Linked DNA regions of Homo sapiens. The protein of the gene in region 3 interacts with the protein of the main gene of each other region in a biochemical or structural test. Each region holds a gene or a part of one and is shown on either strand. Other genes may lie near its edges.

The links.
Region 1: the proteins of CALB1 (region 3) and CACNA1D form a complex in vitro, tested with the Homo sapiens proteins (one study listed by BioGRID).
Region 2: the proteins of CALB1 (region 3) and RANBP9 form a complex in vitro, tested with the Homo sapiens proteins (one study listed by BioGRID).
Region 4: the proteins of CALB1 (region 3) and IMPA1 interact in a test that uses a peptide from one of them, tested with the Homo sapiens proteins (one study listed by BioGRID).

Annotation. Positions count from the first base shown.
Region 1 is NC_000003.12:53,489,581-53,498,244, forward strand, and holds the start of CACNA1D (voltage-dependent L-type calcium channel subunit alpha-1D), read left to right. Parts: upstream 1-5,030; 5' UTR 5,031-5,586; coding exon 5,587-5,653; intron 5,654-6,234; exon of another isoform or gene 6,235-6,249; coding exon of another isoform or gene 6,250-6,427; intron 6,428-7,571; coding exon 7,572-7,881; intron 7,882-8,664. UniProt on the Homo sapiens protein: Voltage-sensitive calcium channels (VSCC) mediate the entry of calcium ions into excitable cells and are also involved in a variety of calcium-dependent processes, including muscle contraction, hormone or neurotransmitter release, gene expression, cell motility, cell division and cell death.
Region 2 is NC_000006.12:13,638,645-13,646,408, reverse strand, and holds part of RANBP9 (ran-binding protein 9), read left to right. Parts: intron 1-1,679; coding exon 1,680-1,864; intron 1,865-3,817; coding exon 3,818-3,930; intron 3,931-5,101; coding exon 5,102-5,210; intron 5,211-6,655; coding exon 6,656-6,846; intron 6,847-7,764. UniProt on the Homo sapiens protein: May act as scaffolding protein, and as adapter protein to couple membrane receptors to intracellular signaling pathways. Acts as a mediator of cell spreading and actin cytoskeleton rearrangement.
Region 3 is NC_000008.11:90,065,730-90,073,493, forward strand, and holds part of CALB1 (calbindin), read right to left. Parts: intron 3,509-7,764; coding exon 3,425-3,508; intron 3,326-3,424; coding exon 3,269-3,325; intron 554-3,268; exon of another isoform or gene 310-553; intron 247-309; coding exon 169-246; intron 1-168. UniProt on the Homo sapiens protein: Buffers cytosolic calcium. May stimulate a membrane Ca(2+)-ATPase and a 3',5'-cyclic nucleotide phosphodiesterase.
Region 4 is NC_000008.11:81,669,213-81,676,976, forward strand, and holds part of IMPA1 (inositol monophosphatase 1), read right to left. Parts: intron 7,068-7,764; coding exon 7,022-7,067; intron 4,738-7,021; coding exon 4,629-4,737; intron 1,836-4,628; coding exon 1,727-1,835; intron 1-1,726. UniProt on the Homo sapiens protein: Phosphatase involved in the dephosphorylation of myo-inositol monophosphates to generate myo-inositol. Is also able to dephosphorylate scyllo-inositol-phosphate, myo-inositol 1,4-diphosphate, scyllo-inositol-1,3-diphosphate and scyllo-inositol-1,4-diphosphate.

The DNA.
Region 1 (8,664 bases), on a different chromosome or scaffold from region 3:
TGCATCCCATTCATTCCTCTACCTGGAACACATGTCCCCACCCGCTTAATCCGCCTGTTCTGGTGGTTAGTGGGTCAGGGCTATCCCCTCTTAGCACCAGGGCCTGTGGATGGAGGAACTCATTCAAACCCAACTACACAGTTTGTTTAAGGATATGTTCTGCATATAGCCTTCAGGATCTGTTTATCTTCCTTAATTAGAATTCCTGGTGTGCAAAGGACCCAATTTTCCCTCTGTTTTATATTTTTACCATCTAAGGGCCAAGTGTGCTACCATAAACTTTATGGGATTTTTGTAAATATCAGCTGACAATTTCTGGTGATCTATGTGGGCTTTTATGATCCTGTGCAGACTAATCAGAGTATTTAGTGCCCGCTGTGAGCATAACACTTAGCAGCAGGGAGAGGGGGTTAAGGAGGTGATCCTTGCTTAAGGACCCACACGGTGGTTGGAGAGACAGGATTTATAGCCAAGAAGCAATCACACAAGACACAAGAATGTATGTCATCAAAGGGGAAGCCAGGTGCTGCAGGCCTTTAGGGAAGGGGAGGTGGGGGTGGGGGCACACGAGTGTCCATAGCAGCAGTAGCAATCAGAGAAGTCTTCTGGAGGAGGCAGAGACTTGACCGAGGCTTTTTCAATGGAGAGGGGTTAGTGAGAGGTCAGCAAGTCAACAAGGTAGGGATTCCTGGTCAGCGAATAAACAGGAGCCAAAGCAGAGAGTCAGAAATGAGCACAGCATGTTCACAGTCTAATGAGACTGCTGACCACAGTTTAAAGTGAATGGTGCGAGATGATAAGGTTGAACGCTAGTCAGAGGAGTTTAGGTTGAATGTGGAAGGAAGGAGGAAGAAAACATTTTTTGGTCAGGGAAGTGACATGGTGTGTTTTGAACAAGATGGATTATTTGTGGGAGGAAAAATGGAGAATGGGCATCTTGTGCATGACCTGGGGTGTGAGATGGTGAGGTTCTGGACTGGGCCATCAGCAAGGTTTTTTGAAATGCAGTGCACGCAGGTAATCATGTCTGGCATGCCAGCTCAGTGCGTTCAAGTGGGAGTGCTTTATAAATAAGGTCATGGAGATTAAGACCCCACAATAGTGTGTTAGCAACATAATTGGGTTGTAGCACATGTAGCTGATTTAGAGCTGAAATCTTTTGTTTTAGCCTTTCCTCATGTCTTGTTGGCTCAGCTACTAAGTAATTGTGTGTGGTTTTGGGCGAGCTACTTAACTCCTCAGTGTCTTGGTTTTGTTGTCTGTAAAATGAGTTTTGTTTTTTTTTTTTTTTAGAGTTTTGCTCCGTTGCCCAAGCTGGAGTGCAGTGGCACAATCTCTGCTCACTGCAACCTCCACCTCCCAGGTTGAAGTGATTCTTCTGCCTCAGCCACCCACGTAGCTGGGACTTAAGGCGCACGCCACCATCCCCAGCTAATTTTTGTAATTTTAGTAGAGATGGGGTTTCACCATGTTGGCCAGGCTGGTCTCAAATTCATGGACTCAAGCCCGCCTTGGCCTTCCAAAGTGCTGGGATTATAGGCATGAGCCACTGAGCCTGGCCAAAATGAGGGTTTTATAGTACCTCGTAGGCTTGTTACGAGAATTAAATGAGTTAGTACATATAAAGTGCCTACCCTAGAACCTGGCACACAGGAAGCCTTTAAAAGATCTTATTATTTATTTATTCAGTAGTTTGCATTATCATGGGAATATAAATATTTAAATTACCCAATGGGCCAACGCATCTAGAGCTGTGCTGAATCAAGGCCCTCAAAAAAAAAAAATGCTTGCTGGAGACATCGCCAAGATGAGACTCATTCAGAAACTGGGATGGAATGTCAAAAACTCCAATTCAAGGCTGAGCAGTGGCTCATGCCCGTAATCCCAGCACGCTGGGAGGCTGAGGCAGAACTGCTTGAAGCCAGGGCTTGCAGCTTACAGTGAACTATGATCACACCACTGCACTCCAATCTGGGCAACATAGTGAGACCCTGTTTCTAAAAATAATTATTTAAAAAAAAAACCCCAAACCCTCCTGCAATACCATAAACTTGTTAAGATCTAACGCACAAAACCTGGAGACCGAAACCACAATTTAATCATGTCACTTTTGAGCTAAAACAACTTCACTGGCTCTCACTGCCAAGAAATTGAATCTGGTCTTCTTAGCCAGCCAGCCTTCCTCCACAGATTTGGGTTGGCCTTTCCAGCCTCCTCCTCCTCTAGCCCAGGGGGTCTTTGCCTCAGCCACACTGTGCTCCTGCTCATTTTTAAACACACCCACCTTGCACTTCAGTCTCCCCTGTGCCTTTGCTCTTACCCCCAAAGCTCATTCCTCATACATCATTTATGCCCTGTAAAAGTAGTCACCTGTTTTTAATAGACTTTATTTTTTTTAAGAGCAGTTTTAGGTTTACAGAAAAATTTTGCAGCAAGGACAGAATTCCCATATATTCTCTCCCCCAACAGTTTCTCCTATTAACATCTTGCATTAGTGAGCTACACTATATACACAGTTATAACACTGGTACACCCCAGTGTTATAATTGATGAACCAATATTGTGGTACTACTATTAACAAAAGTCTATAGTTTGCATTAGGGTTTATGCTTTGTGGTGTACAGTCCAACGGGTTTTTGACAAACGCATAATGTCCTACGTCCATCATGGCAGTATCATAAAGAATAGCTTCACTGCCCTAGAATTCCCTGTATGCCACCTATTCATCCCTCTTTCTCCCGGTCAGTTTTTAAGAATCAGTTCAAATGCCCTCTCTTCTGTGAAAACATCTCAGTTCCCTCAGTTACAATTAATCTGTCTGATGCTTGTATAGCGCTTTTTCATACTTGTTATAGCTGCTATGTTTGCATGGTATGAAAGAAGTATACACGGCCGGGCGCGCGGTGGCTCACGGCTGTAATCCCAGCACTTTGGGAGGCCGAGGCAGGTGTATCACCTGAGGTCAGGAGTTTGAGACCAGCCTGGCCAACACGGTGAAACCCCGTCTCTACTAAAAATACAAAAATTACCTGAGGGTGGTGGCGCGCGCCTGTAGTCCCACCTATTCAGGAGGCTGAGGCAGGAGAATCTCTCTTGAACTCAACAGGCAGAGGTTACAGTGAGCTGAAACTGCATCACTGCATTCCAGCCTGGACAACAGAGTGAGCAAGACTCCGTCTCAAAAAAAAAAAAAGTATACAAACTTTTCTTCTGTCATTAGGTTGTCCTTGAGGAAGGAACTGTGCCATAGATTTGTCCTGACATCTAGACCAGACCCTTATTCTTAACCGGTGCCTTATGAATGCTGGCTGCACTGAACTGAACAATGAGCAAATATGGTTCGGCTCAGTCATCCACTAGATACAGTATTTTTCCCTCTAGACAGGAGCTGCTGTTTGCAAATCTCCCCCATTCCAAATCTGAGCCAGCAAAGGTATCATAAAACAAACTTGCTCAGGGAATTTTGTAGAAAAGGCCTCAAGAGGCAAGGCTTTAGACCAGGAGTTCTGAAAGTGACATGTGTACTTGTGAATTTCATACATGCTCCTTGGATGGGCTAGTTTCTTTGGAGGGAACCGTCTTCTATTCCCTTCAGATTTTGGATCAGAAGCAGCCATAGGAGAGGTGGCCCAGGCCAGCTTTATATTGTTACTAGACCGTAGGGCGATTTCTCGCCTCTCCAGTCTCCAAAAACAAAGCACAAAAAAGGACAAGAGCCTGGTTGTTTTCATCCTCACGGACCAGACACCCCCTCAGGAAGGCCTCTGGAGAGTCTTCTGTCTGGTCCCCAGTCTCTCTGCCCAGGTGCCCCCCAACAATTGAGGATGACTAGTGTGTTCTCTTTGGGTAAGGAGCACCTTCCCATAAACACTTATTTTTCTTAATTCACGCTGAGCTTTTACTTTATTTTCGCTTTAAAGTCACTGTTCTGAAACGTTCTAAAACGCCGTAGGAACATGCAGATAGGAACAAAAGCAAATAAATCGAATCCTGTGAAGTAACAAAGCAGACGCCCTTCTCCTAACAGGCAGCACAAAGCTAAATGAAAAATATCAGTCATCCACTAGATAAAGTATTTTCCCCTTTAGACAGGAGCTGCCGTTTGCAAATCTCCCCCACCCTAAATCCAAGCCAGCGAAGGTATCAAAAAATAAACTACTCCCTTCAGCTCCCAGACTGGAGGCAACAGTTTCAGCAGCACCGTCTATTTCCTTGAACAACACGAGCGGTTTGAAAGACCTTGGCTTTGACTTCCCTGTACCTGCCTCCAAACACACGTGGGGGCGGGGTGGGGTGGGGGGAGATATTGCCCCCCATCCCCGTTGCCTTCCGCGACGCCAGGCCAGGCGCAGGGCAGGGGAGAAGATGGGGGGCGCCCTGGATTCGCGGTTCCAGCTGCAGGCAGTTACCTGGGGTAGTGAGTGCTCTCTACAGACCCGGGCTACCCCAACCCCCCCGATTCCAGAAAGGGCCGGAGAAAAGCAGGGGGCGCCTGCCCCGCTCCGGAGCAGCCAGGGAGCCCGGCCGAGCCTTGACGAGGATGAGCTCGGAGACCGCAGCAGCTACCGCCCGCTAGCACCTGAGCTCCCAGGGGGCGGGGCCTCCTCCAGGTGTGCGCAGAGGAGGCCGGCGCGGAGTCGGGGCCGGCGCGGGAGCCCGAGCTGTCCCCCAGCCCAGAAATGCGCGGGGAGGAGCGGTTCATCCGCACCCCAGCGCCGCGGGAGACACTGGCGCCGCCTGCCTCCTCCGGGTCCCGGGGGGAGAGCGCACCGTGCGGCGCGGAGGGGGTTAACCGGGCAGCCCGCCGCTGGAGCGCGCTTAACCCTTTGGAGCCCGCAGGTCAGCCGGGCCAGGCTGGGGTGGCGGCACCCCGAGTCCCACGCGACGGCCACCCCGAGCGCGCAAGTGGTGCCGGGCAGAACCGCGCGCCGGGCTGCAGACCCGCCGGGGCGCGGCGCGGCGCGGGCCGTGGGCGGCTCGGGGCGGGCGGAGGGCGGGGGACGGCGGCGGGCGCGCAGCGTCGCCAGGGCGAAGCCGGCGTGCGGCGCGGCGCGGCGGGCGCGGAGCGAGCGGGCGGGCGAGCGCCTCCGTCCCCGGATGTGAGCTCCGGCTGCCCGCGGTCCCGAGCCAGCGGCGGCGCGGGCGGCGGCGGCGGGCACCGGGCACCGCGGCGGGCGGGCAGACGGGCGGGCATGGGGGGAGCGCCGAGCGGCCCCGGCGGCCGGGCCGGCATCACCGCGGCGTCTCTCCGCTAGAGGAGGGGACAAGCCAGTTCTCCTTTGCAGCAAAAAATTACATGTATATATTATTAAGATAATATATACATTGGATTTTATTTTTTTAAAAAGTTTATTTTGCTCCATTTTTGAAAAAGAGAGAGCTTGGGTGGCGAGCGGTTTTTTTTTTAAATCAATTATCCTTATTTTCTGTTATTTGTCCCCGTCCCTCCCCACCCCCCTGCTGAAGCGAGAATAAGGGCAGGGACCGCGGCTCCTACCTCTTGGTGATCCCCTTCCCCATTCCGCCCCCGCCTCAACGCCCAGCACAGTGCCCTGCACACAGTAGTCGCTCAATAAATGTTCGTGGATGATGATGATGATGATGATGAAAAAAATGCAGCATCAACGGCAGCAGCAAGCGGACCACGCGAACGGTGAGCAGCCAGAGCCCGGGCACCCGCTGCCAAATCCGATCCTGTCATGGTCCTCCAGCCCCCTCCCCCTTCCCCGCGGCGCTGGATGGGTTGAGGGGGTTGGAGAGGGTGCTGCCAGCTCGGTGTCGTCTACACAGAGAGGGGACATGCGTGACAGCCACTCCGCGCTCCCCTCCAGGCCCTGAATGTCAGAGTTAATTCTGCATTTGTGGGGTGGGGGCGGCCGTGGAGTGTGTGGAGCGCGGTGCAGCCGGAGGGGCGGCGAGTCGGGGTGATTCGGGTTCAGTGTCCTCGGGCTCAACTTTCCTTCAACGCCCCCGAGCGATGGCAGGAGGGCCGCAAGTCTTCAGCCGGAGCCCCCTTGCCAGCCTCTTCTCGCCTTCCACTCCTCCCCCGCCCCCTCGTTGACTAGGAAGAAGGTCCCTGGTGGCATCCGGAAAATTCTAGGATTGCCCGGTTTCGCCCTCCGCGCCGGTGGGTGAAGCACACCCATCCCCTCGCGGGGGAGGCCCGGCCTCGGTATCGGGGAAAGGGGTTCGGGTGGAGCGTGCGTTCCCGCTCCCGTCGCCGGCTGTGCACACGTCGGTAACCTAGCAATGCCCGGGGAGCCGCTGCCGCTGTGGGGCTCCCCTCCCCAGCTCTGGCCCGGGCACCACGTGCAGCTTCCACGCCGGCCGGGGCTGGGTCGAGGGAGGATGGAGCAGCTCCTGGCCAGCCCTCCCCTTTGGAGACCGCCAGTGCCCCCCAACCCCTGTCGGCTGGAAGCCTTTCCGGGTGAGCGCTCCCCTAGGGAGAAGCTTGACATGACTCGACTCGTCCCCGCTCCGATTGCCCGCCGCTCGCCCGCTTTGCCCTCTTCTCAGGCTTTCAGACCCGTGCTTGCTTTGACTCTTTACTTAGCAATAATTGGCTTTGCAAACGCCCATCTCTCTACCTTGCTGTCACCTCTCTCACTTCTGCTTCAGTGAGGAGACTGTGGCGGAAGGCGGCAGGTGCCTGGGAGATCTGCCTGGGAGATGGCCTGACCCAAAGCTGGCGGGGGCTTCGCATAGGGAGCCTCCTTGAGTTTCTGCCTTGTGTGCACCTGGATACCAACCTACACGGAGATAATTCCCTCTTAGGCCTGGAGGCCCCTGGCATAATCCAGTCAGTCTATCCTAGGTGTAGGGGTGCAGGCTGACTGCCTTGTCTGTCTCTCTGGATGCTGGCTTGGCTGATGCTGCTGCAATTTAAAATGCAAAAAAGCCCTAAAGATGTTTTCTGTTTTCGGAAGCCTGTGGAGGAAATGAGTCCCAAGCATCATGAATTTTCATTTGCAGGAAGTGTCAGTGCATAATCTAGATATTTGTTATGGGGTTTTTGGTATTGCCTGGGTGCCTATGGAAGATTTTTTTTCGGTACTGAAAAAAATGCATTTGTGGCTGTGGAAAGATGTTGGAGTAACACTCTGAAAATGATTAAGACTATTGAATTATTGGTACTGCCTTTTTTTTTCCCCTTGGTGATGGTGGTAGTTATGTTAGAGAAAAGCTGTTGTATGTATCTGTTACTCATTAGAGATAGATGGGTTTTACAAATCAGAGATGCGGAGTAAATGTGGGAATGACCTCAGTTTTGTCAGAAGAAATGCACTAAAAGACCCTTTGTGAAGACATGATGTGAAGGAGTACTAACCCCACTGGGTGTGATGCAGCGGTGATCCTGTGTGATTGACACTGAGACCAGAGCTCGTGGACTTTTCTTGACTCTCCAGCTGACTAAAGCCCAGCTTGTGAAAAATAGCACATGAGATTCAAAATGGAAACATAGGAGTGAATGATTCCCCTGTTATTGATGGGAGACAACCTTTGATTTTTTTCTCCTACCCACTGGATCCTCATTTAAAAAAAAAAATCTTTGTTTTTCTCCTTCTCCCCAGAGGCAAACTATGCAAGAGGCACCAGACTTCCTCTTTCTGGTGAAGGACCAACTTCTCAGCCGAATAGCTCCAAGCAAACTGTCCTGTCTTGGCAAGCTGCAATCGATGCTGCTAGACAGGCCAAGGCTGCCCAAACTATGAGCACCTCTGCACCCCCACCTGTAGGATCTCTCTCCCAAAGAAAACGTCAGCAATACGCCAAGAGCAAAAAACAGGGTAACTCGTCCAACAGCCGACCTGCCCGCGCCCTTTTCTGTTTATCACTCAATAACCCCATCCGAAGAGCCTGCATTAGTATAGTGGAATGGAAGTATCCTTTTTTTGGGGGAAGTCTTTCTCATTTTCTCTTTTACCATCTGTTTTTTAAAAGGATTTGCTTTCTGAAGTGACACAAAGCTGTAGCAGTCTGGAATGCGAGTAACAGAAGTTGTATATAAGGGGTTTCATTGTATATACCTTCCTGTCTCTTCGGGTTGCAGAGGGGTGGCTGTACGGGTATATTTAGCCCACTGTCTGGATGTGTGTATAGTAGTAGTAGTAGGGGGAGGGAGTGACAGCCTGAAACTTCACAGGGGCAGATAATTAAAATGTGAAACCAACCTTTGGTTATTGGACATTAGATGGTTAGTTTTAAATTCAGTGTTGTCTTTGGGCAATAGCATGCATTGAACCTATTGCAAACAAGGTATACAGATTAGAAAAAAAGACTGTATAAGACTCTGTTTGAAGGGAATACATTTTTGACCTTTAGTAGAATCTTCTCATTCTGATGTTTGAAATTTGCTTCTGCAACTACAATTAATGCTAAGGTTGCTTCTAGTCTGACATTTGGTGATTCTAATTATTCAGGTAGCTGCAGATATGAGCACATGCTTCCTAGGGAGAGATTACTTTTGATTTTTTTTCTCTGATCAGTGCTATAACTTCCTGGAATTTCCTTTTGACAAGTTCCAAAGAAGCATTTGGAACGTGAGCATGAGGGAGCCAGTGAAGGGAGAGGCTCGTGTGTGCCTCTTCCTCCTGGGCCCTTATGAGTTATAGAACAGCCTTTTCAGTGGAGGAATTTGCAGTTGCTGCCTTTATAAAAAATTCT
Region 2 (7,764 bases), on a different chromosome or scaffold from region 3:
AGACAGAGTTTCACTCTTGTTGCCCAGGCTGGAATGCAGTGGCACAATCTCGGCTCACCAGAACCTCCCCATCCCCGGTTCAAGCGATTATCCTTCCTCAGCCTCCCGAGTAGCTGGGATTACAGGCATGCGCCACCACACCCAGCTAATTTTGTATTTTTAGTAGAGGCGGGGTTTCACCATGTTGGTCAGGCTGGTCTTGTACTCCTGACCTGAGGTGATCTACCTGCCCCAGCCTCCCAAAGTGCTGGGATTACAGGCGTGAGCCACCATGCCTGGCCTGTTTCTATAAAGTCTTTAGGTCTCAGTTTTCTCATTGGTGAAATGGGAAGGCTGTACTATCTCACCTGTTTTTGGCTTAAAAGTTTATAAACTTGTTAGCTCTGTTGATTATTAAGAATCAATACATTTGCATACTTTGCTTTAACCATTTATTTCCATAATCCAGTAGTACTTTATATTTTTGATATTTTGATGTAATATTTTGTTTCTGATTTGTTCTGCTTGATTGAACGGTTGTTTTTAAACACACCCTCTTTGCATTTTACTGTGAAATCTATTTAACATATTCACACAGAAATTATCCGCTCTTGATCTTTACCTTGTTTTGTACTGAAAAATACTTGTTATAACTATTAAAGATATAAGACATAAATACAGAAAATGAAAATATGGTAGGATTTGGAGTTGCAAGAGGAAAAATCAGTTTTGGATGTGGTATCAGACAAACTTGTGTTCCAATTCCATCTCTGCCATTTGTTAGCAGAACGACCATGAGCAAGTTATTTAACCTTGAATCCTCATTTTCTCTGTCTTTGAAGTAGAAATAATAATAGTGGCCTCACAGAATTATGATTAAACCCTGGCATTTAGTAGCCACTCAGAAACTCATTCTGCCTTTAGATGTAACAACCAATTAGTGACATAGCCAAAAGAATGACCCCTGTATTTTTTGTTTACTTGAAGTTATCACCTTTTCATCTTGATTAACCTTGAAACCATGGAGTGTACCTGAATGCATTTCTGAGTTTGGGTATATTCAGATTCATCCTTTTCCTCCCTTGAAATACATATATTTGAGGTTTTGTGTTTTTTTTTTAATATAGAGAATCTCCACTCTTCCTGGCACTGTGTTTTGCTTATAGTTATGGTCTTATCCCCTTCCCTTTGTAAAGTTAGGCATCCCAAATATACAGAATGAAAACAGTAAATTTAAGCTATTAAATGCCAGACTAGCTGAGATCATACTTTTATGATAACTAGCTTTAACATGCAGTTTATAGAAATGTATCATATATAAAATGTGGGATAAACCTGAGTTATGTGTTTATAGTTGAATTTCTGTAACTACTATATGACATAATCTTAGAACAAGAATTACATGCACATATATTAGTAGCATAATACCACGTGGTATAATACAACGTAGTCCCTGAATAAATAAAACAGAGATCTTGGGTCTCTTTGTTTTTTCTTGATGATTACATTGCAGGAAGTGATATTTTTTCATCTAACATATAATGTATTTTAGATCATTTGTTTTAGCCTTCTAATATTTTGATTGGGATTTTAAAATATGAAGTAAATTTATAGTTCTATTCTTTTAAATGTAACATTAAAAGAATTATTAAATCTAACATAAAATGGATAGATGTTTAATGAAATATGCTATCTTACAGCCAAATTTGTATCCTACTGTGGGGCTTCAAACACCAGGAGAAGTGGTCGATGCCAATTTTGGGCAACATCCTTTCGTGTTTGATATAGAAGACTATATGCGGGAGTGGAGAACCAAAATCCAGGCACAGATAGATCGATTTCCTATCGGAGATCGAGAAGGAGAATGGCAGACCATGATACAAAAGTAAGAGTGAAGAAATTTCAATTGATGCTATTCAGAATCTGTTTTTTATAAGACATTTATTCTGTTGGTATCCACAGAAGCTTTTTAATCCACTAATTTATATACTGACATATCTATTATATTATTGATTTTAATCTCTCAACGAAAAGTAATTTACTCCACTATTTAAACAAATTAAAAACAATTGTTTGACACACGTACAGAATTGTATTTCAGTCTGAATTAATTTGATGAAGGAAATAAAATGATGTTAGGTCACCTAGGCTAGGTTAATTCATTTGCTATTCTTAGTAATAGGATTTAATGATTTCTGTAGGTTATACAATTTAACTTTTAATAATGTTAATGGAAAAGATAAAGTTGAGAGATAATCTAGATCTTATAATCAGGATCTGTGGTTTTTGGTCATGAACTTGGCTATGTCCAAGCTCTTAATATCTGAACTATCAGCAGTAGTTAAGTATGGACTTAAAATTTAAATAAATACCATTAAATTTAAAAAGTCCTCTTCACTATTATAATCCAGGTCAAGAAAATAGCAGACTTTCAGATACAGTTGGTCCAACACATTTCATCTTTAATGTCCTTATAATTGCTTTGAATATTCTTAACTTTAAAATTGTAATAAAATGTTGGGGGTATTTTTTAGAAAAGGAAGTGATTGGGAGACATGATGATGACTCTGAAATCACACTTCGTCCCTGGAGCTATTATCATCTGTATTACAGAGATTGGACACTAGTTTTTTTGTCCAGCCCAGTTGAGAATAGACAACCCTGATGCAGAATCCTATAGTCACCACGAAGTGAAGCTAGAATGGGTTGTTCTGGGGCCACACTGTTTTAATGCTCTGAAAATGGTTACCACTGAGTATCATGGCAAGATAGTAGAAAACATTTATCTTAACCTTATAACCAGGATCCTTCCACCCACTTCTTCACTGACTTGATGTTCACCATGAACTCTTGAGAAGTCCATTCTAAAAGGTCCCCTCCCCCTTAAATTAATTTGAACAATTGGGTAAAATAAGATGCAGATCTGTTTCTTAGACATTTTCCTCCCTTTTCTCCCTCCGCTCTTTGCCTCAGTCTCCTCCTGTGGTGAACCACTGCTTCCCACGATTTTCTAACTGGCCCTTAGTAGTGTCAGGTGGAGGCAAGTTTAAAAATTGACTGTTTGGAGATAACAGATATTTGGGTTAATATTGTTGCATCACCAGTTTTTCTAACCACATCTTGTGGGTAGATGTAAGTATATGTTTTGACTACCTGGTACGTTTTTAAAAGATTATTGTCTTGGAAATGTGTCACTTACATGTAAACCATATTTGATAAATCTCTTGGGTAAAACCATAGTAATTGATTTAGATTAGAAGGCTGATTCCTCCTTTAATTAGTAGTACACTTATAGACATGTTCTGGAAGATTGTCTCTCTGGATTCACCTTAGTATTCTGTACATACTTTGTGATCCCACTTCATTTAACCGGTGTGTAAAGAAGATGGTTGAACTCTGGAACATTAAGAGTTAATCTTTTATTTTAAAGTTGGTTATTTTACAGAATGCCAGCAATACTGGAATAAGTCATATGATAAAGTCAAAATAGAAATTATGGTTAGTAGGGCTGAATAATAAGATAGGAAGGGACCTGGGGGTAATGAGAGTCCAAGAATCAAAGAAAAGGTCATTTAATGTCCTTGATTCTCAAGTAATATTTATTTTAGGGAGAGTAGTCTCAACATAGCATTTGCAGTTATCTTTTCGAAAATAGTACATGAATAGAACAAAATGATGTTTTTCAAAAGCTTACTTTAAAGGTGAGGTTCTTAACGCCTTGTTTCAAGGAAATAGGTTCGTTTTTATAACACCAGAATAGATTTTGTTTATATAAATTGTAGTATGAAGCATGTATTCTCTTCACTAAAAGATGTATGTTTCTTCTTTTTATTTTAAGAATGGTTTCATCTTATTTAGTCCACCATGGGTACTGTGCCACAGCAGAGGCCTTTGCCAGATCTACAGACCAGACCGTTCTAGAAGAATTAGCTTCCATTAAGAATAGACAAAGTAAGGACACTGTGGTGCATGGCTAACATTTGTTTTCAGATTATAGATTTGGTTACTTTAATTTTTAGAAATTTTGTTTTTTTAATTAAAAAAATTTCAAATATATTAATTTAAAATGGATGCCTCTGAATTTTATTTTCACTGACATTTTTGAAGATCAGTTTAAAAATTCACATAGGACTATGTCAGAATTCTAATTCTAGAGAGATTTTACAGAAGTTTTTTGAAGGAATGTCTTTACCATTTTTTTCTTAAATGTTTTCTTAAGCTTTCAGGAAATAAACATTTAATAAAAAGATTTAAAAATAATAATAAAGTAGTCCTGATTAGTTGGAGGAGATAGTATGTGAAAGAAATGTAAATATCTTTGAATTTAAATGGCTAATACAGTATTGATCCATAAGTATTTATTATTTAGATCCTAGTGCTGGCCTCTGTGGCCAGAGATAAAACAGGTCCTGTATAACAATGGCAAGTCAGCATAACTGGTCCATAGTTAGCCATCCTAAAATTGGTGCTGTTTGTCCATCAGGGTGGGTATGACTTGACAAGAGTATAGAGATGAAAACAAAATAGATGGGTGAAATTAATGGGTGAAAACAACTATTTCATAGGTCAAATTGCTGTAATAGCACTGATTACATTGGGTTGTAGTTAATTGTGTGCTGTCCTTTTCTACTATTTTAATAAGCTCTGTTGAACAGAGATCACTTACTCATTTTGTATCCTTATCATCTAATTTAACATATAACAGATCAAGTGAATGCTCAACGAGTCTCTGTTAAATTGGAATCTTAGTCAAAAGCTAGCATTTTTCAGTCCTTTGTTCAGAAGATTATGTTTGATAAGGCATTTTAGTATCCCTTTAAAACAGTCTTTTTAATCTCAGTGTTTGAAACTTCAATATTGCATAATAGGTATTTTAACTATATTACTCGTATGTTCGTGATTTTAAAAAAAAAATTTGTGACCGTACTTGTTTTTCTAATTTTCTAGTATGTCTGAAATGTTTCCTGGATTGCCTAATGGAAACTATGATGTTAGAGAAAGAAATTGAAATTAATCATAATTTATTTAAAGATTTCTTACTAACTTTCTTTTCTGAGGTCACTAAGTTTATGTTTTATCTACTTTTGTAAAAGTTAATCGTTTGCTTTCTTTTACTGAATAGGAATTCAGAAATTGGTATTAGCAGGAAGAATGGGAGAAGCCATTGAAACAACACAACAGTTATACCCAAGTTTACTTGAAAGAAATCCTAATCTCCTTTTCACATTAAAGTGAGTTTGCATAATAAAATGCTATATTTGTTATATATTATAAATATTTGTCAAGTTATGTAATAAAAGACATTTTCGTGCTTTTGTAATTTTAGTTTTTTTCGTTTTTCAAGTATATACAATTTTGTAATGTCATTTAAGCAACATGTTATGAAAAATACTTTTGTGTTAAGGACCATAAGCAGAAGGTGTCTTTTGCTATGTATTTGCTTTTATTATTCTATTTATGTGTTTAAAAATGTGAAAATCTTATTTAGAAGATGGGTGTCTATTTTTCCTTCTCAGAAGTACCTTACATTTAATCTCTCTGGCATTTTAAAAAATTGTGGTAAAATATACATAAAATTTACCATTTTTTACATTCACATCATTGTGCAACCATCACCACCATCCGACTCCAGAACTTCTCCATCTTCCCAAACTGAAACTCTCTATTAAACACTAACCATCCATTCATCCCCCTAGCCCCTGGAAACCACCATTCTACATTTTGCCTCTATGAATTTGACTACCCATATAAGTAGAATCAGAGTATTTATTCTTCATTACTGGCTTATTTTAGTGTAATAGCCTTAAGGTTCATCTTTATTGTAGTATGTATCAGAATTTTCTTCCTTTTAAAGGCTGAATTTTACTCCATTGTTTGGATAATACTGCATTTTGTTTATCCATTCATCCACTGATGGACACTTAAAGTTTGCTTCTACCTCTTGGCTGTTATGAATAATTCTGCTGTGAACATAGGTGTACAAATATCTGAGTCCCTGCATTAGATTTTTTTGGTTATATACCCAGAAGTGAACTTTCTGGATCATATGGTAATTCTATGTTTAACTATTTTTTTTTAATAATAGCCATCCTGATTTGACAATTTTAATTGGTTTTATGAATCTTTGTTACTTAAAAAATGAGATGTTACTGAGCTTCAGATTTCAACTTGTTAAGCAACAGATATCCTTTGTAAGTCAAATGACAGAATTGTTTTGCTTTAGAATAAGAATTTTAAATGAGGCCCATTTTGGTTAAGAGGTTGGGAATGGGACGGGTGGGGAGAAAGGCTACGCTTTATATGTATCTCATATACATAAAATCATGTCCTTAGGCACAATTTGATTTGCTACCAAGCGCAAATGTTATTTTGATTAAATTACTTGTAGCCAAAAAAATGGGGTTCATATCTTCTTATAGGTAAATTTCCATTTGGTAAATCCTGATTAAAGGGGGTAATATTATTATAGTGTCTATTACATTGTACTCTCATTTTTCTGGAAATTCTAAAATTCTAAGCATTAAAGCATAGGACACCATATTTAATATTTTTAGCTTACTAAAGACCAATCCTACTGATAAATCAAAGTTTTAAAAATATTTTTAGAAATCTGTTGCTATTAAATAAAAGGCCATTTGAAGATTGTGTCTAAGTAAATTTTTCTTTTCTCCTTTAGAGTGCGTCAGTTTATAGAAATGGTGAATGGTACAGATAGTGAAGTACGATGTTTGGGAGGCCGAAGTCCAAAGTCTCAAGACAGTTATCCTGTTAGTCCTCGACCTTTTAGTAGTCCAAGTATGAGCCCCAGCCATGGAATGAATATCCACAATTTAGCATCAGGCAAAGGAAGCACCGCACATTTTTCAGGTGAGATTTAACTTATGACATTATTTTTAGATTTTTCCTCTTTATAATCTTAAACCTTTTTCCTTTTGAAAATCTGTATATTTCCAGCTGGGCACGGTGGCTCACGCTTGTAATCCCAGCACTTTGGGAGGCCAGGGTGGGCGGATCACGAGGTCAGGAGTTCGAGACCAGCCTGGCCAACATGGTGATAACCCCATCTCTACTAAAAATACAAAAATCAGCTGGGCATGGTGGCAGGTGCCTGTAGTCCCAGCTACTCGGGAGGCTGAGGCAGGAGAATTGCTTGAATCCTGGAGGCAGAGGTTGCAGTGAGCTGAGATCACGTCACTGCACTCCAGCCTGGGTGACAGAGGGACACTCCATTTGTCTCAGAAAATCTGTATATTTCCTTTGTAGCTGTTTTCAAATGTGTATACTTAAGATTTTTCTGGGTGAAAAATTGTAGGTTCAGATTGACATGTTCTCAGTACCAGGAAGTCACTTGAAGAACAGCTGTCTGAGAATAGGTTATTAGCAGACCTTCCTAAATGAAAGTCAGCATTCACAATGAGTAGTCACCAGAATTAAATTATTGATTTTTAATAGTGAAAAGGTAATTGTGTGTTTTAATAAAATATAAATTTAAAGGTGATGTGGCTGTGATACCTTATGCCACTGGTTACCACATCTAGCTGGGCTGCCGCTGCCTCCCTCCTCTCCCCCCACCCCCAACCTTTCCCAACCAAGCCTCTTGCAAAAGTCAGCTCTGCCTAGTTCGTTTTCTCCCATCCGTTTGTTGGCTCACCAGTCTTACTCTCTGTGACTTTGGGCTTTCTCTTAATTAAAATTCTCTCCTTTCTTGGCTTTTGTGACATCACTTCTACAGGTTTTTTTGGTTTTGTTTTTGTTTCTTTTTAAAGAGTTGGAGTCTCGCAATGT
Region 3 (7,764 bases):
GATGTAAGCATCCCTAAGTATTTCACTTTTCAAATGAAATGATACCTATGTGCATATGATGCCCACACCACCGTTTATTTATTTCATCCTGTGTAGCCTTGGGAGTTAGCAAGAACATCATACTACTTCATGAGCTCTTGGGTACAATCTTTTCAAGATCAGTCTTACCATTAGGTCTGTATACTCGGCTAATTTTGTGTCATCAACAGTCTTGTTTGCTTTTTCTAGCAGGTCCTTTAGAAAGTTCTGTTAAAACAAAGAACACTTAGATTAATTTCATTAATAATATATCGTCTACTTTCATTTCAGAATGCCTTGGAACAGGACATACCAGGAATGCAAAGAAAGTCTCCTTTTGAGGGGTAGAAGCAGGTGAGTAGAGGAACTTATAATAGAAGAAAGACTAAACCAGGTTGTCCTCCTGGCATTCCAGCAATGAAACTACCTTTGACAGGAATAATACCTGCTTTTTACTGAGACTTGATTGATCATTGTCTGTGCATTACCATGACTTTATGATTTCAATTAACCTGAATAAAACCTTTTAAAACCAGCCAGCCCAATGGATGCATTTCTTCTTACTGATATCTTCACAAGTACTCATTGGATTGTTCTGCAAGAAACACAAGGGCCTTTATACCTTTGGAATATTGTGAAAAAATATCAGTAAACCAAATAGAGATCTATCCCTAATTTCAAATCCATTTTCTGCTCCCCAGGCTGTATTTACACATTAGTTTATAGCCAGCATGATGCTTATTTCTCCAGAGGGCCAGTTGGGTAGTTTTTAGCCTAATGCAGTCCAAAGCACTTTGGTTAAAATGCTTCCACTGACTATTTAAATTAACAAAATTGGCCACAGTTGATGTCATTGAATCTTTGAAAGATATATGAATCATATTAAAATAGAGATTAATGTGGGAAGGATGAAAAAAAGATGATTATTAACTTGACACCTGGAGCTTAGGAATGAATTTAAGTTTTTTTAACAGAAACATAAATAAAAGCTTTACAAAGATTTGCCATATAAGTGACAGTGTAAGCACTTTATAATAGTCATTCATTTTGTTTAGTGCTATTCATTCGTAACTCCTTTATTTTCTCAGAAAATGAATTAATGCAATTAGGAAAAACTAGGCAGATACTGTGCCCAGATATTATTGAAGGATTAGATTTCTTTGATTTAGCAATGACTTATCTCTCTCCTAAATGTTCCAGTTCTGGGCTGATTTGATGCCACTTTTTTAAAGGAAAGAGACTCTTTTCTTAGTTTGATAAAAATTTTTTACTTCAAATATTCCACTTCAAATCCAAAGTGAAGCATGGAAAATTCAAAGTTATCTGTTGGGGTTGAATTTTATTTTTGAGCCTTCTGGGGCTTTTGTCAGAGATTAATTGGGTTAAAAAGCCTCATCAGAGACTAAAATGGTGGTCACAAAAATAGCCTCGGAGAAACCTTGGGACGCAGAGATTCAAAGTCGTGTCTGAGAGCAAGTGATGTTTTACTCTATTATGGATCTTAAAATTAGCTTTCTTGAAAGATCCATTAAAAAAGAATGCCAACTTATCTTCAAAATTCCCCAGGGAAGAGGACTTCTATTTAGAATCTCTTTCTGAGAATAAAATTTAGAACAAAGAAGGAGGCTTTTAGAATATTTAGAGGTCAGTATTGGAAATGAGCTAAGGTTTTCATTATGAACTAAAAAGGATCTTTAAAAGAATATTTTTGGTCTAACTAATAAAATAAAAACACAGTGGCTTAACTGTCACCTTGTGGATTGCTGAGCTGCAAGTTTGTAAAATACACTGTTTTCAGTGACTTCACATTAAAAACGTTTACATTTTCAAGAGGATAAAATTGAGTATGTTTTAGCCATTTTGCCATGGCCCAAATGTCCCCGTTCCATCTTTAAAATTGTATGCTACTCAAACTATGTTGAATTATGACTAGAACTGTTGATATTCATATTTCCCCACATAGCAAAAGAGCAGCTCTTAATAAATGAAGTCTGAAAGCATGTAGTGCTGTGGGGGTGGGGTGGGGAATCATTCTTAGCATTATCAGATATTCTAGGTACAAATCCAGGTTCTCTTCCTAGGCAGCTGTGTAATCTTGAAAAATCATCAAATCTCTCTGCATTCCAATCTCACTGTTTTTATATTAGGAGTGATAATACCTGCCTTGCATATTTTCTGTGAGGATTAAATTTTAAAATACACTTCAAGCACCTTGTACTCTGCCTGACAGATAGTCAGTAAATATTAACTCACTTATATTTTAGTCACTCTATGTTCTAAAAATAGAAAAAGTAGGGTCTTTCAGATGGCGATGTTTTGGGGTCGGCTTGAGGAAATGAGAAGAATACTTCCATATTCCTGAAAGGCTAGTAAATTGAGTTCATGAATAATATAATTTATTTTATGTTGCATGTCACAAAAGCTTTCATGTGCAGAATCTTACTGGAGCTTCACAATAAGCCTGAGAGGAAGGATTTATTACACTCATTTTAAAGATTAAAGAAAATTGGAAAGATATAGTAATTAATGAGTTAAGACTTGATTTCAGATCTCTGCCTTTTCCTTTATATCCTCCTCTGTGATATCCGAAGTGATAAATTCATTCTCTAAGTTGCAGTTTTTCAAAAGTTTAATTTTAGAAGATTTTTTATTTTTTATCATCATTGCTGAGAGTCAGTAGGTTGTGTAGAATGTCTACAGGCCTTGGAGGCAGACAAGCCTGGATTTGCACATCAAGGCTCTGTCCGATTTCTGTGTGGCCTTCAGTATATCATTTAACTTCTCTCAACTCTTCCTCAATGGGGTAATACAATGTCATACAACTTACGCAAAGATTAAATAAGGCATTATGTGTAAAGTAGTTGGCATACAGTAGCTATTCAGTAACTTTTTCTTCTTTCTTTTGTAAGAAAATTTATATATATATGTGTTTATTTTGAGAACTAAAACTACAAATTTCAATAAAAGAATGGCTTATTCGGCTTATCTATAATTCTATCTGTCTGTCTGTCTTATATTTGTGTACACCACAAAAAATGTTAATTTTTTGCATTACTGTACAGAATTTCCAGAAGCAATTGAAGATGCTTTTTTGATCTGGTACTTCATTAACAATGTCGAAGAGTAGGTGAAAATGTGACACTGTTCAACATTAGTTTCTTTTGTGGGAGGTTTTTTAAAAAGCTAGGAAACTCTTAGTTCATAATTGCATCTGAAAGGAAAAACTTAGTACAAGTTTTTATTTGCTTACCTTAAGCTCCTCAGTTTCTATGAAGCCACTGTGGTCAGTATCATATTTTCTCCATGTCTGTAAGTAATTTTGGATAAGGAAAACAAACACATTTTTAATAAAAGGAACAATTTTCCTACTTTAAGCAGCTTTCTTAAAGGGGCAGCTTTCTTATACCTTCATGAATTCCTCACAGGACTTCAGCTGCTGGCATCGGAAGAGCAGCAGGAAATTCTCTTCTGTGGGTAATACGTGAGCCAACTGGAAAAGATTTAAGAAGAGAGAAACGTGTTGTAAGTTGCTCAAAAACAAGTCTCTGCCATTACCTGCTGCTTAGTTTTTCTTCAACGTGTTCCCTCACAGGCTAGAAAAGTAGGAGAGGAAAAACATTAGAGTCGGCTTTCCCTTTCTGGTACTTTCCTATGGAGCGCTGTCGATTCTCCAACGCTCGTGTGCCCTTGTGTGCTTGGTTCTTTGGCCAGTGAGGTGGCCGCAGCAGACCTGTGCTCAGGTAGAACTAGCGTGGCCACTTCTTGTCTGCTGGACATTCAGGCAGATTCATCCTCGTGGCTTGAACCCTTCAAGTGTTCTATGCCACAGATTAGTGTTCTATGCCTCTCTCCTCTCTCCTCACAGGGTCACAGAAAGGCACATGTGGGGGCCATAAATTTCATGTGAAGTGAAAGAAACCATGAGGAACATAAATGTTGGGGAGGGGAGTGAAGGGGGAAAATGTATTCCCAAGCCCGAGGAGAAAGCCTACCATGAGATACAAGAGAAGATAAACCAAAGACAATCGTAAGGCAATGGAAAAGAAATTCACCATGAATGGTGGGGCGTTAAACAGGAATAGGAAAAGCCAGTTCTCAAATTGTTGCTTTCTGCTGAAAGGACATCCACTGCTTGAATCCAGGGCTGGGGTTTATTTTCTGATCTCCACGGCATGCCTCTATGACATTTTCCCTTAGATCTCATTTCAAAACTTCAATCCTCCTCTCTTTTTTTTTTTTTTGGAAGAAAAAAGGATTCCATATCCCATTTTATGACTAATCTATTGCGTACAGAGAAGGAAGGAGCTGGATTGATGGCTCCACTACAGATGTGAGATCTATTTCTGGCACAGTAGCTAATTAGCTGTGGTCCCCAGCAACCCCGAGCCATTTCTGGACTTCAGTACCCTCATCACTAAAACAAGGACTTGAAATAGAAGCCAGTGTTTCTTGAATATATTGGGTTCAAAACGCCTTCTGTTGGAAGCACTGCATTTTCACCATTAAATAATGAATCTACACACACTATATTTCATCTAATTTCCAGGATTTGATGAATTCCCTAGATCACGGGCATGGACGGACCCTCATCCGTGGATTTTAGGCCAACAGCCTGTAGTCTAGATCAGCCTTAAAGTCAGAGTCAGTTCTAAAAGTTCTACCAAGTTATAGAAAATACTATCATAACTTTTTTTAAAAAATTCATCCTTTTAGGTTCATTTAAAAATTTAATATTTAATATAAAATGCACTATTCTACTTTATATGCAAGGAATCTAATTTTTCTTATGCCTGTGTATGCCCTTTAGCTTATCTTATGTTTAGATTTTTGAAATAATATTTCAAATTAAAACCACTCGATTTATACGCACCACACATGTGGGTGAGACTAAGGGAAAGGGCCAAACCTTATGTCAACATGTTTAATATGACCTAGTTATAAAACATTTTCTTATTTATTTTTAAAGAAAGGTCACTAGTGTGGGTAGATGATAATATATCTAAAAAGTAAAAATGGGGGTTTATAATGTGCCAGTGCTTTTAAAAAAATGTAATTAGCTTTTGGTACATAAACACATTTGCATCATTGCAGTGTGTGTGTGTGTGTGTGTGTGTGTGTGTGTGTGTGTGTGTGTGTTATCCAGGTCCCTTATTAAACTCAGGACATACTTCTGTGACCTTTGCATTCTTTCAATTCCTTTGAATACTTGAATCATAAAATTCTATACCTCAGAAATAACATAATTTAATTTAATTCAAGACCAAATTTTTCAATTGAGGATGCTAAGGCCCAAAGAGGTTGAATGATGACCTGATGATTGGCAGACTGAAAATCACTTTAATTTGGTGATTATTAGTAGATTAAGTCAACAACATGCTTGTTGAAGACAGTAATAGAGTGGTTTGGTTGCTTCTTTGCTCTTGGACTGCAAATAATGAATTTGTTGGTGATTTTTACACGTGACAATGAGATAGTTTAAATATGATAAGCTGTTTCTACTCATTGAAATCTAGAACACCATTTTCCTTATAAAAATCCCTTTTTTTTCCTCATCTGTAAGTGGGCTCCTAGTGGAAAGTAGCTATAAATGATTTTCATTATAAAGTATCCAGATATCTGGTAAGTTAGGCCTAGAATGTAGGTCTCCCCCCAGAGCTAAGGGGGAAGAGGAGAAGGGAGGGAGAATGGCAGTGGGTGGGCTCGGCATGGAGAGGGGCTCTGGAGGACGGAGAGCCACACCCCTCCAGTCTTGTTGAGCCTGGCCTCTTCTATAATAATACTTTCCTGGAGGGATTCTGAAGAATATCTCCTTGAGGATTTTAAAGAAGATGGGAAGAGAAGAAAAAGTAACACAAGAAAGAAGAGGGAACAAAGATGGAAGACAATAAAACACATCAAAGAGAAGAAAATATATCAGAGGCAGACATTTTGAGGGAAAGATTGAACAATGGAAATGGATGTTATGTATACATTTTGGAGGGTTCTGCATGATATAGAAGGTCTAGCCACATTTTATTATGTTTTTTTCATGAATATAAGTGTTCATTTAGGAAACAGGAAATAGCTAACCCCAACTCGTCCTTTATTTATTAGTATGCAACTTGTTAGATACTTCTTACAATTTTTGCGTGACCTTCCTCTAGACCATTAATTTCAAGAGGGCAGGGAATAATACTTTTCTGCATCCCCTGAATGCCCAGCATGGTATCTAGCATGTTATATGCCTGAAATAAATGCTTGCGGATTGGTTGGTAATTTTACTTTATTAAAAACATCTACTTAAAAGAATTGAGTTATTTTTTGCTTATCTTCATCATAATTCTCTATTTTGTTTGGATTTTTATAATTAGTGTGTGTTGCTTTGAACAAAAAAGAATAATTTTTCTTTAAATATTTTACATCTCCAAATTCACTGAATACATAAAAACAGAAAAAAACAAATGAATGAACTAGTAAGCAATCACTAAATGTAAAATTAGGGAAATTGCCATCTTTGTTTCAACATAAAAGTTCATGTAACTCACATAAAGTTGAGAGGTCTCCTGAATGTCAGATACAGAGATAGTAAAAATGCTCTTCATGTCTACTATAAATGTGTATTTCTTGCCCATACTGCTTTGGTTTTATACTTAAATTATTAAAAAATACAGATTACATCAATGTGCAACATATTCAATCTGTTTTAATTTCACTGAACCATTAATGTTACACTCAACATGATACCATCCTATTTTATAAATGTTAGAAAGGAGTCTTAAGCATATAAAAATTATTATGTGTATATAGGATGTGGCTATAGTGAATGTAAAGAAATCTTTCTTAAGATATGTTTCACAATGTGGTGGTCCTGTGTTGTCTCTCGGTTCTTCTCTCAATGCGTATGAATCAATATTCAAGTTTCAGAGCTGGGCACAGTAATTCTCCAGCTGTAGCCTTTATGACTATGTCTATAATGTGCCAAAGGTCTTTCATATAGGAGGTGTTAAGTAGAGTTGCTTTATTCTCAGATATGCTAAGTCACTGCTGTTTATAGAAGTATCCAATACTTCTTATTACAATATTATTGGTGATTCTGTAATCTTTGGGCTGCCTGCCTGCTCTTTTATGAACTCCCAAAACTTTTTTATGAGTTGGAAAAGAGAGTGAAGAATATCAAGGGGATGAGTGGAAGGCAGGTAGCTAAGGAAATAAGTAGAATCCCTCAGAGCTTCATTTCTGAGAACTGATTGCTTGTTATCAAGAGTAGGAAAAAAAACCAACAACTTCCTACTTGCTTGTCTCCCCTACTAGTCTACGTGCTCCTTGAGGATGGGGTCTGTGTCTTATTTACTGTTTTGTGGCCCAGAAACTGCACAAATTTTAGTAAATATTTTATTGAAGCAATATATAAAGGTAATTAACTATTTGTTTAGCATCAGGATAGGCTGTAAATAAATGGAGGTAAAGTTCCTTTGGAGATAATTCCAATAACTTATTACTGAGCTGTGAATAGGGGTTGGGGTGGACATTGTGATATGCTACCCAGAACTCCCTTCAAGTGCTGGGAGTGTTGCTGCAGCCTCACCTGTGAGGCCCCATTGAAGGAATACCTGGGCTGAAGACAGCTGTGTCCCCAAGGAGGTGGCATCCTATGACTGATCAACATGGGGATATAAAGGCCCAACGGTCTCACTCAAAACTAGAGACATTCCTGAAGGGTCATCCCAGCTTCAGAACTCACTGTAGGGTCAGCTGATGTCCCCGTTG
Region 4 (7,764 bases), 8.4 Mb from region 3:
AGAGAGTCCCCACTAGGGTAATGCCTAACTAGTGGAGCCATGAAAGCAGGACCACTACCTGGGCCTCAGAACTGTGGAGTCACCAGCAGCATGCAAGGTACACCTTGGAAAGCTTCAGGCACTGGACTCCAACCCATGCCAGTAGCCATATGGGCTGTACCCTGCAAAGCCACAGGGGCAGGGCTGCCAGAGGCCTTTACCCAGCCCTCAACCCCCAGTGTCTCCATGAGGTGGTACATGCAGTCAAAAGTGATTATTCTTGAGCTTTAAGATTTCATGTCTGCCCTGCTGGAATTCTGGACTTGCCTAGCGCCTGTTCTTTCTTTTTGCCTAATTTTCCGTTTTGGAATGGGAATGCCTGTCTTATGCCTGTGTCACTATTGTATCTTTGAAGCAGATAGCTTGTTTTGATTTCACAGGCTCACAAATGAGACTGTGGACTTTAAACTTTTAAGTTCATGATAGAACAAGTGAAGACTTTGGGACCCTGGGGATGGAATGAGTGTATTTGTATGGAAAAAGACAAATCTGGGGAGTGTCAGGGGTGGAATGCTGTGGTTTGAATGTTTGTTCCCTCCAAAACTCATATGGAAACTTAATCTCCAATCTAGCAGTACTGAAAGGTGGGGTCTCTAAGAGGGCTATGCCCTCATGAATGGATTAATCCACTCATGGGTTAATAGATTAATGAGTCATCATAGGACTAGGACTGGTGGCTTTATAAAGAGAAGAACAGAGACCTGAGCTAGCATGCTCAGCCCCACCATGTCACATTCTGTGCTGCCTCAGGACTCTACAAAGAATCCAGCAAGAAGGCCCTCATCAGATGCAGCTCCTCAGCCTTGGGCTTCTGAGCCTCTATAACTGAAAGAAATAAATTCCTTTTCTTTATACATACACATTACCAAGTTTCAGGTATTATAAGCAACAGAAAATGGACTAAGACAGACTCTCCTTGTGAAAATTTAAGAATATAACTCTCAGTAAAAGAGGAAATACAAGCAAATTACAGAATTTATGAAAAAAATAATGAAAACAGTAAGTATCAGTATTTATGGGATACAATGAAAACAATGATCAGATGAAATTCATAGCCTAAATATCTACATCAATAAACATAAAGGAATTATAATAAATTTTCTAATCAAAAAGGAAAAAAAAGGAAACAAACCAAAAGAAAGCACGAAGATGAAAATAATAGTGCAGAAAAGAAAAAACCAGCTTAAATTAAAATCCTGGTTCTTTGAGAAAAAAGAACAAGAAAAAAAGCACAAATAGACAAAATAAGTGACAAGGTGGAAATAACCACTGATATAGAGAAGCCAGAAATTAATTATAAGAGTCTATCTTACAGACTTCTATGCAAATAATTTGAAAACTTAAAGGAAGTAATTTCATAGGCTGTGGAAATGTTCCAGATCAAAGAAGGCTAAGGAGACATGACACCTAAAAATAATGCTGACTCTAGACTGAATCCTACTTTATTGGAAGGCAAATGCTATAAAGGACATTAGCAGATTAACTGACAAAACTGAATATGGATGACAAATTAGATAAAAAGTGTATTTATGAAATCAGTGGTTTCATGGTTATGGAACAGAATCTCCCTATTCTTTAGAAACCATGATGTATATAATTTACTCTAAAATGGTACAGGAAAAAAAAAAGGTGTGTGCACACACACACGTATACAAAGAGAGAGATAGAATAATGGTAAAGAGCTTACCCATGAACAGGAATGCAAAAAAGCTTTTCCATATTAGAAAGAACCATTCTCACAGTCTCTGGTGTTCTGGAAGAGCCCAACTCAGTCACCAAGAGAGATTTGGTAATATCTAAAAAGAAAGTGTTAGGTTTCAATATTTAGACTTCTAGAAAATACCTGACACTTGTAATTCAGAAGAGGGCATTTGTATCCCTCTTCCTTGTTTTATCGTGTTTCTTTATAAGCATTTAAATAATAAAATACTGATAAATTAATTATCCCTATGTGATCCTTTTTATAAGCATCAGAGTCCAGCTGCTTAGGCCCTTCCTGAAAAAGTACATAATGTAACCAATTTGCCTGCATACATAATACTTAGTGGGAAACAGCAAATGTCTTAAATATTTAAAAAGGAGAGACTAAATTCAATAAGGGATTTATGTATAGATTTGGAAGAAAACAAATTACAGTAAAATTACAGTAAAAGTAAAAATTTTACTTTTACAACAAAAGTAAAATTCTCTGACATCCATTTACAAGGCTGACAGGTTATCCAAGGTTTTCCATTTGAAGCTCAGGACACACCCAACACCCTAGATCTCACCTCCTCCCACCAATGGAGATGTATGTTCACCAGCTGTGTTTGATCTGAGCATTTCTGTAACTGTTGTACTACATTTAATAGTTACGTAATTTAGGGCTGGGCATGGTGGCTCACACCTGTAATCCCAGCACTTTGGGAGGCGGAGGCAGGCAGATCACGAGGTCAGGAGTTCGAGACCAGCCTGGCCAACATGGTGAAACCCCATCTCTACTAAAAATACAAAAAATTAGTTGGGCATGGTGGTGCGCACCTGTAATCCCAGCTACTCCGGAGGCTGAGGCAGGAGAATAGCTTAAACCCGGGAGGCGGAGGTTGCAGTGATCCGAGATCACGCCACTGCACTCCAGCCTGGGCAACAGAGCAAGACTCTGTCTCGGGAGGAAAAAAAATAAAAGTTACATAATTTAATACTTTGTAAAGTGAAGAATGACTATGCAAAGGAAAAGAGTTGTTTCTATCAAAGCTACCATATTCCTTCGGTCCAAGATTTGTATTTTCTCACATGATGACATCTAGAAAAATAAGAATGCATCCTCCATTTCATGGGGTCTTAGATTTTAATGAAAAGGAAATAGCCTAAAAATCTGCTCTTAAATTAAGTGTTTGAGGGAAAAAGGTATAAAAGTCTAGAAAGATTCTAAACTCAAATTGTTTTGCAAGTACCTCTAAGTTCTTGCTGCACTGAAAAGAATTTCAATGTGCAAACTGTGGAAAATGTTTGGTGTGGTTTATGGAAGAACAGTAACTCAAAACCTCAATAAGCTGTGAGAAAGAAAAAGAAAAGTTTTAATCTGCAGAATGCCAGTACCTTTAAATTATCAAGCCTGAAGAGGCATTTAAAATATACCAGCAGACAGTCTCACTCCCCTGGAGTTAAATAATTGCCACTTGAAGCCGCTTGCTACAGGGGGCTCTAGACTCACTGATGCCAAGCAGCCATAAAATGCCATGCACCCTATAATTCAACAGTGTATAGCCAATCACTAAGCAATGTTATTTCTGTAAACAAATGAGAATTCCTGAGTACAACTTTTCTCATCATCCCCTCTCCCAGTGTGTCCCTTTTTCTTTAAAAACCTGAGCCTCTGCTAAGTTCTCTGGAGCACTCTCCAAGGTAATCTAGAAGTGTGTCCTGGGCTGCAGTCCTCAACTTTGGCCCAAATAAACTCTCTACATTAATTTTGCCTGCACTTCCTTTTTTGAGGCCAACAGATGTAATAGAGAAGAAAGAACTTAAATTGCCATTCAGCTTATAAAATATATATGTCTCATTTTCAGTGATTCCCAGCTTTAACGGGCTTTTTTTCCACCCATTTACTTTGTAGTAATTGGTCCTGGGGCATCAGATCAGAGGAATTCTATAAAGAATTTTAGAAGCAGTAGATAAAACATAAACCATGAATTCCACAAGGACAGTGTGAAAGGAAAATAAATCTGAGGACCCAAAAAACACTAAGCCAAGGGAAAAGTCAAGCTGGGAACTATGTCAGGCAAACCTGCCTCCCATTTAATTCCTAAATAAGACACCTACAAAGACAAAAGAGCTACATACCTCCCTTACAATTTGCCCACAAGGAAATTCCTTGTGGACCTCAAGATCTTTACCCTAAAACAGTTCTGGCTGAATTTTGCCCTGGCAATGTAGACTGATAGCTTATCTTCACAGGTGTGGGAGAGAAAGTCATCCCTCTGCTCGCCTGAGACAAATTCATATCTGATTGCTTCATCTGCCCTATTGTTTATGTAAAAATGCAGATTCACTGAGCCAGACTCAATTGTGTATTTAAAGGCTGATTACGGACTTAAAAGAATATAATCATTTGTCTTTTATCTACCTATAACCTGAACACCGCCCCCTTCCCCACTTCTAGTTGTCCTGCCTTTATGTACATCTTACACATATTGATGTTTCACGACTCCCTAAAATGTATAAAAGGAAGCCGTACCCCAACCACCTCGGGCACATGTCGTCAGGACCTCCTGAGGCTGTGTCACCTTAACTCCTTAACTTCGGCAAAATAAACTTCTAAACTGATTGAGACCTGTCTCAGATATTTTGGGTTCACAATAGGAAGCCAGTCTTAATCATCTTCCTATCTCTATCACAAAATACAATGCTGAGCCTGAAGTGTTTGCTCAATTACATTTCTTTCCCTACTTCCATTCCACATTCAAAGCTGAAGTCAAAAAGAATAAAGAGATAATAAACACAATTTATGAATCAGTTAACACCTGGAGAATTCCATAGGTGAATATTAAAAAACAATAAAATATTGAGCACACAATATGAATAGCATCAAAAATTGGAATTAATCCTACCTTCTTGTTGTGAAACTTGTAGTTTTTGACCATTACAAAAGGCACCTTTTCCTTTTCTGGCAGTGTACATCTTGCCTTCCACACAACTGTACACAACTCCAAATTCTATCTGCAGAGGAAAACAAGTTTCCTTTACCAAACCTAAGTATGTTTCATCCACTTTTTTCTAAGAAAATAACAAGACAATCTGGTATACTGACTAGTAACAATGGACTGAAATGGCTAAACTGTGGGATACTTAAAATGTTAATTTCCAGACTAATCAAGAGAAAGAGGTCACCAGAACTGATATCCTTGACTCTCCTCCCATCCAAGTCCAGATCTAAGAACACCCACCTTACTTCTCTTCCTCCTGCTTCGGAAGACAGGGCTTTCCTATTTTCTAAGTGAACGCTTCTCCGGTGTTAGGACTCCTACCCTCACATACATTCTCTGAAAAACTGCTCCATCAGCTGATTCCCTAGTCTCTTGGATTTTTCTTCTTATACCTTCTCATTAAGTTTCTCTCCTCCTTACAAAACCTTTGAAATGTTATTCTATCCTTTTCCCTTCACTGCCAATGAGTAACTTTGCATCTCCTATTCTCCTCTTAATACATTACAATGTGGCTTCTGCCCTGATCACTCATTCTTCTGAAAGTCCCACAAAGAGAGTATCAACAAACTTTCTTTGTTGCCTCAAATGCCTTGTCTGAAGAATTGGAGTCTACTGGCTCAAGACTTATTCAATACTTAATTCACTACCTCCATGCTCCCACCATTATTCTCTTAGTTCTACCTCACCTACTAATTCGTTTCAGTTATGATTTTAGAACATTCTTTTCTGCCTCACCCTGAAAAGTTAGGCACCTCAGGCTTTTTTCTTCCTTCTCCCATTGCTTCCATTTCCCTTTTAGCTCTCCATATTCACACAGGTTGGTTTTTTACAGTCCACAAATTCATTTTGGCTCCCATCAACCTCATAATCGGGGGAAGAACCTACGGTTCCAAACCTAGTCTTGCAGAATTTCAAAGACAAAATCATTCATTGCCTGATCACCTCCCATTCCTTCCCCATAAATCTCCTTCAAATTTAATCTCAAAAACACTTTCCAATTTTGGCATTTCCTTGGCTATTCTCACTGCCTCTACTTAGTTCACCCACACCCCAGTATAATCTCTACATTGCTAGAATTATCTGTCACTTTCCACTTCAAAACCTCTACTGGTTCCCAACTACCTTGAAACACAAACTAAATTTTCTTGCATGGACTGGCCACAGTGCCTCACAGCAAGGCCAAACTAACCTTTGTCCTGGCCACTTGCAGTGCTTCCCTCTCCATGAACATCTCACCATTCCCCACACGTATAATGGTCTTCAATTTCTCCAAGCTGTTCTTTCTGATTAAAACGCCTTCCTCTTCCCACCACCCCCCCACCCCCGCCAATCTGGAAACCCCTAGTTTTCTAAGGGCCAACACATGATCAACTTCTAAGACCCCTGCTGTTATGAAGATTTTCCCAACCCACTCTCAGCAGAACTGGTGACATCCTGTGTTCCCATAGTATTTTTTTTCATGGTTCTACCACATATCATCTTTACCTGTTCACACATCTAACTTTGTGCTGAGCTGTTGAGTTCAGTGGCAGGGCCAGCATACAGCCCAGAGCTGATTATATACTGAAAGCTCATGTAGCTTCTTCTGGACATTCTCATTAATTAATACAACCCTGGGGCTAAGCTGTCATTTGTCCAATATGTGTTTTATATTCAGAAATGTTATAACTGCTGTTATACATGTTGATCTTACATATCAAAAGTTCCTTGAAGATAGGTAGGTAAAATGTTAGTAACCATCCTTTACTGTTTGACCAACTAAGGAGCCAAACAGCAAGGAAATGCTATAGCTATATGTTTTATTCTGCTAGGCTTTAGATGTAAGTATTTACACATAAGACAACCTGAACTATGTGTAGGTTCCTAAAGAGAGTCTGTATTTTCCAACCATGCTTTGGCCCCTGCTACTTGCTGGTTTCTAAATGTATTTCTTCACTAACACCTACTAAAGCATTCCCAGCTCAAATCTCACCTCTTCCACGAAGCATTTAAGATCACATATAAACTTCTATCCCATCTGACTCTATCACACATATAATGGTTACTAAATACTGAGTTGTATTTCAGTTACTTGTGTGTATTTTCTTCTTACAACTCCTGCTTCTCAGAATACATAAAATTTTATCCAATGCAAATGTATCATGAAAATTTTAACAGTCCTGTAGCTTATATTCAAAATAATGCAGTTATATAATCAAATATACAGACAAACCTGAATTTATTATGAAAACACATTTACTTTTTCTCAGAAAATGAGAGCAAGGCATATAATCAACTATACGTTTAAAAAATCATACCTTTTTATTTACAGCAAAGCCAATTGAAACAGCTACAAAAGGAAATCTTTTTTTAAAAAAAAGGACAAAATACAAATTAACCAACATAGAACTTTTGTTAATAAAATTAATCTTTTCATAATATAAGTGTTCTTAAAATTTTTCCTATAAAAAGTCTCATCTCCACTCCCCACAAAATCTAAGATGCAAAACAGTTTGTATGGTATACAACCCTTTGTAAATAGGATAAAGTGGAGGTATTATACACACACACCCTCCCCCCAACACACAGGCACACGTTCACACAGGATGCTTCTATAGGCATGAAACATCTCTGAAAGGATTCACGAGAAACTTGTAACAGTGGTCATCTCCAGAGATGGATCCTGGGAAACCAGAAATGGAAGTGTGAAGGGCATTTTGCACTGCGTTTTCTATCTTTTGAAGGTCAAATTCTATGAATATAGTAGCTATGTAAAAATATTTTTTCATGGCCACGCACAGCGGCTCACTCCTCCCAGCACTAATTTAGCAGGCCAAAGCAGGAAGATCACTTGGGCCCAGGAGTTCGAGACCAGCCTGGCTGGGCAACATGGCAAGATCCTGTTTCTACAAAAAAAAAGTCACGAAATTATCTGAGTGTGGCGGTGCACGCCTATAGTCCAAGCTTCCCCGGTAGGCTGAGGCAGAAGGATCCCTTGAGCCCAGAAGGTCAAGGCTGCAGTGAGCCATAGTCATGCCACTGCATGCCAGCCTGGGTGACA